Homo sapiens: one gene and its partners. The protein of the gene in region 2 binds, or shares a complex with, the protein of the main gene of each other region. Each region holds a gene or a part of one and is shown on either strand. Other genes may lie near its edges. The genes, in order: PPME1, PPP2R5C and CRYBG1.

Region 1 (3,746 bases), on a different chromosome or scaffold from region 2:
ATGGATAGTTTCAACATAAAAATTATACACAGTTGTGTATACATTTCTACATATGGAAATGGTATAGCAAAAAGTGTATTCTGTTCTATGCTATGTTATATTATTTCTACTTTGACTTTCCGATTATCAACCAAACATGCTTAACTGTTTTGACACAGGGAGCACTAGTATGCTTCAGTCTCAGATCCTCCTATCTTTCCTGGCAGGAAAGTCAGTATCTCAAAACTGCCTTAGTAATCTTTAAACAGCTTGGATAAGAGTAATTCCCAGATTGTAGCTTCAGTCCTCAACCCAATGGCCTAATGTCCTATCACTGTTCCCAATACTTCTTTTCTCGCTAAACTGCCTACAATGCAAAAAGGCAGGGTCACCCACTGTCCTTTTTCCCTTCGAGGCAGTCTTGTAGAGATTCAATGTCAAGTTTCCTGATCTGCCCTGGGTTCCTAGGTTGACTGTTCTCACTGCAGCTAACATCCCCTACTCGGTGAGCTTGTGTCTCCTTGAGCTGCTAACCTGATGAGGACTCTCTGCTGCACACTCTTTCATGATCTCAGGTCCTTCAGGAGATCGTCATGCCCTTACCCCCACTCCAATCCTATCACACCTGTCATTCCCCACTCTTCCCGGCTCTATACTCTACAATTATTTTTCCCAACTCCTGCTCATAGTCAGCCCTTCATACTTCATTCATTCAACTAACATTTACCGAGTCCTGCTTTGTACTAATCCTTGGTCATTCAGTAATGTATAAAACGTGATTCTTGCCCACAATCACACAACAAATGATATAATCCCTTTGCCAATTTATGTTTCTTCCTGTCCCTGTGGACCTCGAAAGCTACACACACACATACATTTCACTTCGTTATCAAAACCAATCCCATCATTGTTTGTTCTTCTCCTCTACAGTCATCCTACCGGTAACCTTCATCTCATTAATCGCCTGTCTGTGGCCCCTACCCCAGCCCCTAATTCCTTTCTATTCTCTGGAGGGCCAATTGCCCTTCCTTTTAACCTTCTGGTTCCCTGGCTACTTCCTTCTTACGTCCCTTTTCTTGTTTATCCAGCGGGGGTGCGGGTCTCCCTAAAATTCCTTACACCCTGCTCTCCTATTACGCTTTCCTCAATCTTTGATCGCTCAGGTTACCTCTTTTTTTGCGCCCACGGCTGCCCCCAGACCCTTGGCCTTTTCGTTGTTTCATGATGAGCCCGAGCTCTTCTTCACCAGCTCAACTCCGTCTCCAGCACCTAAGCAGTATCCTCCCGCCATCCCTCCCCACGGCGCCTGCGTTCCCCGGCAACCGGCGCCGCTGGGCAGCCTGGGAGGCAGGAAAAAGCGACTCTTCCTCTAACAGTCTCCGGAAAACGGTGCGAAGAGAAGGCGCCAAGACGCCTTCCCTCCAATACACTACAATACCCAGGACGCTTTGCTACAATACCTCTCCGGGGTTGGCTGGGGGGCGCCTCCAGCTGCGCAAGCGCATAGGGATGCGCCCTTTGTGGACTCCATTGCGCAGGGTGCATTGCCCTGAAGAGCGCTCCTCCTTCCGGTGAAAGTCGTCGGGTTCCCAGCCGGGAGTCTGCGGAGTTCTCATACTCTGTTACCCAGCTTCCTTTGTATGAGTGCTGTTGCGCACTTCCGGTGGAAGCGCTGAAGCGAGTGGGTGGAGTTTACGGAGCCGGTGGGCGGTAGGCGGTGCTACGGGTAGCTGGGTGCTGTCCAAAGGCGACAGGGCGTCGTTAGGGGAGCGAGTCGTGACCGGTTGGGCCACACTCAACGTGGGACGAAGCTTCGCCTACTGTTTGACTACGTGCGTGCAGCCTCCCCTCGATGTCGGCCCTCGAAAAGAGCATGCACCTCGGCCGCCTTCCCTCTCGCCCACCTCTACCCGGCAGCGGGGGCAGTCAGAGCGGAGCCAAGATGCGAATGGGGTACGTGACCCATACCCCTTCTCCCTATGGGCCAGGCCCCAGCCGTTGGAGAATGGTATCTCTGGGCGTTCATAGAGGCACGGGAAAGGAGTCTACTGATAGGAGAAAATGTTGGCGGCCTGGAGATATTTAGATGGAGTAGAAGGCAGATTGGGGTACTAGGGGAGGCGCCAAGTCAATAGAAATTGGAGGAAAAATAACGTTGTTGAAGGGAGAGGGGAATGAGGCAAAGGTTGGGGAAGCTGAGAGACTAACATAAGGGATCTGAGAATCACTTCCACAATAAAGGAGGCTTAGAAAAGGGAGTAGAACGGTGACAAAGGTGGAGGAGAATCGGCCAGGGAAGGTGGAGGGAAGTGGGGAATGACTGAGAGAAAAGTTGAGGGGAATTGGGCCAACAACTAAGGAAAGGTTTGGGAGGAGTAGATATTATCAGAGTTCTAATATCTGCACTGTGAGAACTAGATACTAGAAAAGCTGAGGGGGGTAGAAAACACTCGAGACAGGGCTGGAGAAGGAAAGAGGAGAACTAGGAAGCAGACGATTCTAGAGAATTCCCAGAGGTGTAAAGACAGATTCAGCGAATGAGAGGTGAGATTAGGTCTCTTAAGGGAGAATGAGAAAGTTTAGGGAGTAGGCCTAAGGTAAGGTGGAGAACATAGCCACGAAGATTGTTAAGGGTAGTAGGAATGTGCTGAGAAGCTGGACAGGATAAGGGAGAGAGAAGAAGGAGAGGACTGAAGAATTTACAGAGTGAGAAGCTGGACAGGATAAGGGAGAGAGAAGAAGGAGAGAACTGAAGAATTTACAGAGTGACCATAGGCTCTAAAGATTGAGAGATGACTATAAATACGGTTTGGTGAATGGAAGTGCTGCAGTTGTAAGGTCTGGGAAGCTTAGAGGAAGATTTGGGCAATCAGTTTTTGCTGGGCTAGTAGATCTGAGGGAAGCGACGTACTGGCCTAAGACTTTGAATTAGTGAAGCATTGGGAGTTCGAGAAATAGTTTGCTGGAAAGGAAGGAGAGCCATGTAGAAGAGATAGGTTTTGGAATTTTAGATCGTTAAATGGCTTGTGCCAGGTTAGGGGATACTTGGGCCGAGGAGAAAGAATGAGGTGAACATGGGAGAAGTAATTGCTGGAAAGTGGAGAGAATTGAATAGGCATTTGGTTTTGAGGGGATATTTGTAGTTTCAAACAGGATTCTGGGAATTAGTGACTGTAAAGAGAAAAGGAGTAGGAAAGATACTTAGGTATGAGGGCTCCAGAGTATATTTGGGATTCTAGAGATGAATTGGTAGATATTCTTTGAAAAAGGACTACAGAAGAGAAACCTTAGGTTCTGAAGAAGTAATATGTGTAAAAACTTATCAAAAAGGAGGCGAGAGTAGGAGATGCAGTACTGTGACAGTAAGTCCTAGGGATGAAAAGAAAGGAGAATCCTATAAAACAGTGGGGTAAAGGAATGGGAAAAATGGGTGGAAAAACCAGGGAAGGAAACTAAGAATTGAGTGGAGACCTGCTATGATACGCAGTAGAAAAATGAGAAAACTTTAGCAGGAGGAGATAGAGAGATAGACGCACAATAGAGGTAGAAGGCTACATAGAAGGTAAAGTGAAGATTGTTTTGGCTTTGGAAGACAGAAAAGTTGGACTATAACATGAATAAAGAGAATTTGGAAACTGACCCATAACATTATTTGGGAAAACTAACCTGGAGTTTAATATTAATGTAACATTAATTGTTGTTAAATATCTTAGTTGCTGCCTTTCTTAAAATAAATTTGATTTTTCAGTATACCAGCACCCTTCTAT
Region 2 (3,746 bases):
GCAAAGTTCATCCCAGCTCACTGCCTCTGAGGAATCAGCCCTGATTCCTGAGCCTGGCACAGGCTCACCTGCCATTCTCTCAGCATCCCACCCATACACACCGCACCACAACCTCAGGATCTCTAAGCTGTAGGCTTCTGGCAGGAGAAGCGTCAGCCCCATGCTGCTCAGAGCCTCCAAGTGCTGCTGTGAGTTGTGTGCAGATGAAGGGTGTTGACAGTAGTTATACAGGTGAAGCTCCTCTTCCCAGAGGCATACATGCTGTGATGGGGACAGGCCAAGTGTCCTGGTGACTGCCTCGAACTCCCAGATAGTTCTGTGGAACGTGCACTTGTGTGCTGGTTTACTACGGAGAGAAAAAGCAAATAGGGTAGGGTATGAACAGTGTTGAATCTGGGTGGAGGGAGGTGGGCACTCATTATGTTAGTCTTGCAGCTTTGTCTGTTTTTGAAAGTTTTAGTAATAAAAATGGGGGGCTGAGTGCAGTGGCTCACGCCTGTAGTCCCAGCACTTTGGGAGGCCAAGGCGGGTGGATCACCTGAGGTCAGAAGCTCGAGAGCAGCCTGGCCAACATGGTGAAACCCCGTCTCTACTAAAAATACAAAAATTAGCCAGGTGCGATGGCGCATGCCTATAGTCCCAGCCACTCAGGAGGCTCAGGTAGGAGAATCGCTTGAACCCAGGAGGCAGAGGTTGTAGTGAGTCGAGATAGCACCACTGCACTCCAGCCTGGGCAACAGAGTGAAACTCCATCTCTTTTTAAAAAACAAAAATGGATGGGCTAGGCGTGGTAGCTCACGCCTGTAATCCCAGCACTTTGGAAGACCAAGGCAGGTGGATCACCTGATCTCAGGAGTTCGAGACCAACCTGACCAACATGGCAAAACCCTGTCTCCACTAAAAATACAAAAAAGCCGGGTGTGGTGGCGTGCGCCTGTAATCCCAGCCCCTCAGGAGGCTGAGGCAGGAGAATCGCTTGAACCCGGGAGGCAGAGGTTGCAGTCAGCCAAGATCACGCCATTGCACTCCAGCCTGGGCAACAAGAGCAAAAATCCATCTCAAAAAAAAAAAAGAAAAGAAAAATGGGGGAACCACCCTCTAGTGGCTTCCCGTGAGTAAGCGCCAGTGCACTCAGGCCCTGTTCCCCTGCCCTCCTACTGTTCATGCCCCCACTGCCCTCTGCAGTGGTCCTCAGCCAGCCCCGTGCTGACAACTCAGGACCTCTCCTCCCTCTGGTCCTTGCTCAGATGTCACCTCCTCCCCATTGAAGCCACCCCACCGCACACGCACCGCCGCTGCCTGTTCTCCTGCCCTGCTGCCCTTTGTATGTGACTTATCGTTTCTAGTAAATTAATAATCATCCATCACCTGTCTCCTCCCCACTAGAATGTAAGCTCCGTGGAGTCAAGGATTTCTGCCTTGCTTTGTTCAGTGCTGAATGCTCAGCAGAACACAGCACGCCCTCTTGACCTGACAGATGGGGGAGGCGGGTGGATAGGTGGAATGGCCTCCTTTGAGTTGTCTCCTCAGCATCTAGCCAGCATCTAGCATAAATGTTTACGGAATAAGTAGAGAAATAGGTGACAATGTTCTTGATGAGTTGATGTACAAGAAGTTGTCTGCCTCTTTGTTGAAGGCTCTTCAGGGTTACAGGTTACAGTCTAGAATATTTTGAATTTGTAGAAATAATCATAATTTTCTGGTCCAAGGTAGTTCATTACCCGACTCACAGGTTTAACAGCAAGGACAGCCACCTGATGTCTCAGGCACAACCTCCAGCAAGCCATCCACTTGTGTCTTTCAGGTGGCAGAGCGAGCTCTCTATTACTGGAATAATGAATACATCATGAGTTTAATCAGTGACAACGCAGCGAAGATTCTGCCCATCATGTTTCCTTCCTTGTACCGCAACTCAAAGACCCATTGGAACAAGTAAGAAAGAACTGGCTGCCATCTTTTTCAGTCATTTTAAAATATGGCACGTTTTACTGCTACTTCAGTAAGAATAAATATCAGAATTTTAAATATCAATTAAAAAACAAGAAGGTCAGTTGCTTTGTGGACTCATAAATTAAGTAGCAGCGTGGGTTGTTTCTGTGGCCGTTGAATTTACCACCTTATACCTTCATTCCTGCCAGTATAGAGGCACATTGGTTTGCAGCCACCTCCCAGTAGCAGCAGTTTCTAGGCCTCTTCCTGAGCGTCCTGCAGAGAAGCTGAAGGTCTCTGCAGAGCCCAGTGGGGCTCAGCCCCGGCGGGGGCACAGTGGCCACTGCATTCTCGGGGTGTCTATTGAGCTCTGCTGACATGCACCCTGGATGAGCCCCTGTGTGAGACCCAAGAACCACCCCACAGTGGTCACTACCTGGAGAAGAAGAGGGAAGCCAGGTGATCTGAACACAGCCCCATAGTCCCAGCAGCCAAAAACATTTCCTCCTACTCCGCTCCTTCATCTTTTGACTTAAAGAGGATGAATAAATCCGTTTACTGAGCAATAGTCTTCTGAGACTTTAAAAGGAAACTGTTGATATGGGTGCCACATTATTTATTTATTTTTCTTTTTTAAAATTTGTATTTTATTTGTTTATTTTTAGACAGGGTCTTGCTATGTCCCCCCGGCTGGAGTGTAGTGTCACGATCATGGCTCACTTCAGCCTCGACCTCCTGGGCTCAAGCAAACCTCCTGCCTCAGGGTCCTGAGTAGCTGGGACTACAGGCACCCACCGCTACGCCTGGCTAATTTTTGTATTTTTTGTAGAGATGGGGTTTTGCCATGTTGCCCAGGCTGGTCTCGAACTCCTGGACTCAAGTATTCCACCTGCCTCAGCCTCCCAAAGTGCTGGGACGACGTGAGCCACTGCGCCCAGGCCATATTATTTATTAATATGGTATCATCTAATATTCCTGCTATTTAAAGAAATACGACTGAGTTTTTCTTTCCCCACCTTCTTTCATCTCTTTCCATTGTATATTGTAATTATAACTCAGAACTTAAAGAAGAGCAGGTTATGCTATCCAGCCCTCCTCCCTTAGTTTATGGGTGAGGAAGGTGAGACTTGGAGGGCATTCGCAGCCCAGTCTGCGGTCCCAAAGCTGGTGAGCGGCACTCTGGCCCGGTGCGGTCTCCTAACTCGCAGTGTCTATTGGGCACCCCTCTGGCTGTGCTGCACAGTCACCCTGCTGCCGGCGGACCAGCCCTCTCCCATGCACCCTCTCTCCTTGTCCGCTCGAGGCTGCAGGTGGCACTGCCTCCTTCCCAGAATTCTGCAGGGCAGCAGCCAGACAGGTGTTAGCCCTGGAGCTCTGAGCCAGACCCCCGAGCGAGCGTCCAGCCAGTCCACTCGCGTCAAGTCTTCTGAGGGTTGCCGCCCAGAAATTCAACAGAGAAGGGCAGGCAGATCAGAGTGAGGATGACTTTGGTTCACATTCCTGCCTTCCTCCTGAGCAGCTGTCTGAACCCGGGGAAGTTAGCTCTCACCAGGTCTTTCTTAGCCACAGTTTCTCTTTGGAAAAACTGAGAAAGTAAAGTGCTTTGCCTTGCAACAATCTTCACTTGGTTGTGAGGATTAAGATAAAGTTAATATGCGTAAAGTACCTGGCTTATGATAGGCACCAAGTAAGCATTTGCTGTCACTTAGTGGTTGTAGGGCCAGCAGCCATGCTGATAGCAGTGGAGGCAGCAGCCAAGACCCTCATGGCAATAGCGTGGTGGTTGTAGTTGTTAATACAGCACATCCACCCTCAAC
Region 3 (3,746 bases), on a different chromosome or scaffold from region 2:
AGAGGCCGGGCGCGGTGGCTCATGCCTGTAATCCCAGCACTTTGGGAGGCCGAGGCGGGCGGATCATGAGGTCAGGAGATCGAGACCATCCTGTCTAACACGGTGAAACCCCGTTTCTACTAAAAATACAAAAAATTAGCCGGGCGTGGTGGCGGGCGCCTGTGGTCCCAGCTACTCGGGGGCTGAGGCAGGAGAATGGCGTGAACCCGGGAGGTGGAGCTTGCAGTGAGCCGGGATTGGGCCAGTGCACTCCAGCCTGGGTGACAGAGCAAGACTCCGTCTCAGAAAAAAAAAAAAAAAAAGAAAGAAAGAAATAAAAGGAAAACCATGTCTAAAATGCAAATTTTGCACAATTTTATTCTGGCCCTCATAGGGTGTATTTTAAAAACACATTTGGAAGGATTTACTGGACATTGTCAATTGTCCATCACTATAAATATTTCACACCTCTGAGCCATGTAAATACGCTGTTACTTCAAATTGATTATTATTCAACGAATGCATAAACTCTGATGCTATAGTTGAATAATTATACATATAGAATAAAACCACTTCAAAACCATGATAAAAATCAAAAAGCACAATGGTAACTACAGTTTTGATAACTAGGTGCTCTCTAGCTCTGCCACTGGCTCCAATGGGGAGAAGCCATTTATCCTTTGGTCTCAGTTCCTCCACCCATGAAATGGGGGTAACCATTCCTGCCACTTCCTCCTCCCTTCGTATGTTGCGAGGAGAATGGGGGTATAACATCTGTAAGAGCACAGATCTTACAGATATTCACAATAAAGAGCTTTACAATAAAGACACTAGCTCAAAAGCAGTGCCTAACCCCAAAGCAGAGTTCCCGCCATCATTTAGGACGGTAACAACCCTCACTCCCCGCCGCTCTGGTTAGCAGGCTGATGCGGGAGGCTCCTGCATGAAAACTTTGCAGTCATACTAAAGGCCACATGCGTGGGCACAAGTTCCTCTCGCCGGTGCTTGGTCTGAACCAAAAGCCGCGAGGAACCTCGTCAACCCCAGCGGCTACGATCGCTCCCCTCCGGACCCGGGTACCCTCCTGCGGACTGAAACAGACCCCGGGGCTTTCCCCTCCTCCAAGTGGGGTCAGGAGTCCAAGGGCTAGCGCAGCAGGAGAAGGAGGAGGAGGAGGAGGTGGGACTGGAGGGCTCGGGCGAGGAGCTCACCTGGCCTCTCCGGCAGGCGCCGGGAGCGGGTGCGGAACGAACACCCCACAGTCAGGCGGCGCCGGCTGCTGCTTCTTTTTGGAGCGCCAGAGGTGGAAGGTGGTGTGCTTCTTAGGGGGCCTGCACGGGCTGGGCTCCCCGGGGTCGCCCTGGGCTGGCGGGGACAGCGGCATCGTCTTGTCCTCCTCCCGCTCCGACTGCCGGGACGCGGTCCTCTCTGCCGCCCGGGCCCTATGGAAGAACACACCTGAGCGCCAGCTCGCCCGCCTTTCTCAGCGCGCCGTGGGACCCCGCCCCCTCGTCGCGGATGCGGGGGGACGGCCGCGGGTTGCAGAACCAGCACCCAGCGCAGCGCGAGCAGCACTGCAGCCCGAGCTGTTGGGGCGGAGGCGGGGACCCAGCCGCGGAAGAGCGCCCCCGCGCGGCGCGGGCGGCAAGGGGCGCTAGCCCAGGTGAGGCGCTCGCGCCGGGAGCCCCAGGTGAGGCAGACACGCCCCGGCTCCCCACCCCGGGGGCGCGCGGCGGCCGTGGGACAGCGACACCTACTGGATGCTCTGGGCACCGCGACTCCCGACACTGCATCCCAGGCTCTAAGATGGGACCCAGAGCCGGGTCGGGCTTCCACAGCGCCTGGGGTGCAGCGGCCATTGTCGCCTGCGGAGTTGTTGGCCGCTCTTGGCCTGTGACAGGCTGGCAGGGTGAGTCGCTGCTTAGCCACGAGCCCCGCCTGGAGAAGGATGGGAGAGGCACATCCCGGGGCTGGGCCGCCCAGCAATTAGGACTCTTCCACTCTGATCTCTGGGTGGCTTGGGCAATGTCATGTGCTGGTGGCTTCTGTTCCTGTTCGTGAACACGGGTGGCAACTCCGCCAACTCGTCTCCTCTCTCAAGAGTCTGAATAATTAATTTGTACTCACATCTCATAAAACACAAAAGGATTAAAAAAATTAAAAACGCCAGAAGGGAATTAGGCATATTCCCCAATTCCCCAAGAGCTTAATAGATCCCTCGCAGTAAATTAAATGCCAGTCCCACAAGGTATTTACATCATCTGCATTACTGTTGATGACTTTCTTGTCTTAACTTCACAGTCGTGGCTAAATAGCAAAGGAAATTAATACTTAAGCAAAGTAAGTAAACGAACAATTATTTTGGGCATCATTAGAGCAAAGAAAGTGCAAGAACTAAGCACTACTTAAAAATTCAATGCAGTACAAGATCCTCTTTCACGGTAATGTCTTTATTTTCCTCTTTGAAAACACAACTCATTCATTCGTTTATTCACTCATTCAAGGAACATTCATTTTTATTTGTTTTTATTTACATTTTTATCAAGATGTAATTTATAGACAGTAAAATGCACAAATCATAAGGGTAAAACTCAAATTTTTACATATTTATGTGGTTGGGGTGTGAAAAGTTTTTTAATGGAGAGTTGACATTGTCCTAGAAAATTCTTCCGTATGTGGCTTTTAAATGTATGATTATAGGCCAGGAGCGGTGGCTCACGCCTGTAATCCCAGCACTTTGGGAAGCCGAGGCAGGCAGATCACTTGAAGTCAGGAGTTTGAGACCAGCCTGGCCAACATGGTGAAACCCCTTCTCTACTAAAAATACAAAAAAAAAATTAGCTGGGCGTGGTGGTGGAGGTGCGCCTGTAATCCCAGGTACTCGGGAGGCCGAGACATGAGAATCGCTTGAACCCAGGAGGCAGAGGTTGCAGTGAGCCGAGATGGCGCCACTGCACTCCAGCCTGAGCAACAGGATGAGACTATGTCTCAAATAATAATAATAGGTAAATATATATGATTATAAAAATATAGAATACTTTCAAAACTTTAAAAATCTCCCTACTGTCCTCTTCCAGTACATTACCCCTCCCACCTGTAAAAGTTAACCATTATTTCATCCTCTTTTGCTGGAGATTAATTTGACCTTTTCTGGAATTTCATTTTAGTGGAAAATCACAATATGTACTCTGTTTCTGGTTTGCTTTGCTCAATATTAGTCGGTGAAAATCATCTATATTGTTGCTTATATTGTAGCAGTTTTTTGTCTTGTTTTGTTTGAGACAGGGTCTCACTCTGTCACTCAGGTAGGAGTACACTGTTACCATCACCTCTCACTGCACTCACTGCAGCCTTGACCACCTGAGCACAAGTGATCGTCCCACCTCAGCCTCCTGAGCAGCCAGGACTACAGGCACACACCACAGGACCGGGCTTTTTTTTTTTTTTTGGAGGGGGTACATTTGTAGAGACTGGGTTTTTCCATGTTGCCTAGGCTGGTCTCGAACTCCTGAGCTCAAGTGACTTGTCCGCCTCAGCCTCCCACCAAAGTGTTGAGATTACAGGGGTGAGCCCCTGCACCTGACCCATAGCAGTTTTTCATTTAAAAAAATTATTGTATACTGTTCCATGATATGAATATGCCACAATTCATTTATCCATTATTGTGGATGGACATTAGGTTGTTTCCAGTTTGGGGCTATTATGAATAAAATTGATATGAACCTTCTGAGATGTACACATTCATTTCTGTTGGATACTTATACCCG

The links.
Region 1: the proteins of PPP2R5C (region 2) and PPME1 are in contact, whole or in part, in a cryo-EM structure (PDB 7SOY), measured with the Homo sapiens proteins. Residues at the interface, in NP_002710.2 of Homo sapiens: Asp180, His187, Arg188, Tyr190, Gly191, Leu194, Arg197, Ser230, Ile231, Gly234, Phe235, Ala236, Lys240, His243, Asp313, Gln341, Tyr348, Glu353, Tyr354, Glu399; in NP_057231.1 of Homo sapiens: Arg37, Lys38, Arg39, Asn192, Lys217, Val251, Glu252, Gly253, Ile254, Ile255, Glu256, Glu257, Pro345, Gln346.
Region 3: the proteins of PPP2R5C (region 2) and CRYBG1 are in contact, whole or in part, in a crystal structure (PDB 6VRO), measured with the Homo sapiens proteins. Residues at the interface, in NP_002710.2 of Homo sapiens: Lys183, Thr184, His187, Tyr190, Gly191, Leu194, Arg197, Ala198, Arg201, Glu226, Ile227, Ser230, Ile231, Asn233, Gly234, Phe235, Ala236, Lys240, Glu242, His243, Pro265, Gln266, Tyr269; in NP_001358171.1 of Homo sapiens: Pro1136, Phe1138, Ala1139, Met1140, Pro1141, Pro1142, Ile1143, His1144, Glu1145, Asp1146, His1147, Glu1149.

What each region holds. Positions count from the first base shown.
Region 1 is NC_000011.10:74,169,591-74,173,336, forward strand, and holds the start of PPME1 (protein phosphatase methylesterase 1), read left to right. Parts: upstream 1-1,698; 5' UTR 1,699-1,831; coding exon 1,832-1,932; intron 1,933-3,746. Other genes in the region: C2CD3 (C2 domain-containing protein 3), read right to left, coding at 1,148-1,202. UniProt on the Homo sapiens protein: Demethylates proteins that have been reversibly carboxymethylated. Demethylates PPP2CB (in vitro) and PPP2CA. Binding to PPP2CA displaces the manganese ion and inactivates the enzyme.
Region 2 is NC_000014.9:101,904,598-101,908,343, forward strand, and holds part of PPP2R5C (serine/threonine-protein phosphatase 2A 56 kDa regulatory subunit gamma isoform), read left to right. Parts: intron 1-1,804; coding exon 1,805-1,932; intron 1,933-3,746.
Region 3 is NC_000006.12:106,358,526-106,362,271, reverse strand, and holds the start of CRYBG1 (beta/gamma crystallin domain-containing protein 1), read right to left. Parts: upstream 1,556-3,746; 5' UTR 1,364-1,555; coding exon 1,191-1,363; intron 1-1,190. UniProt on the Homo sapiens protein: May function as suppressor of malignant melanoma. It may exert its effects through interactions with the cytoskeleton.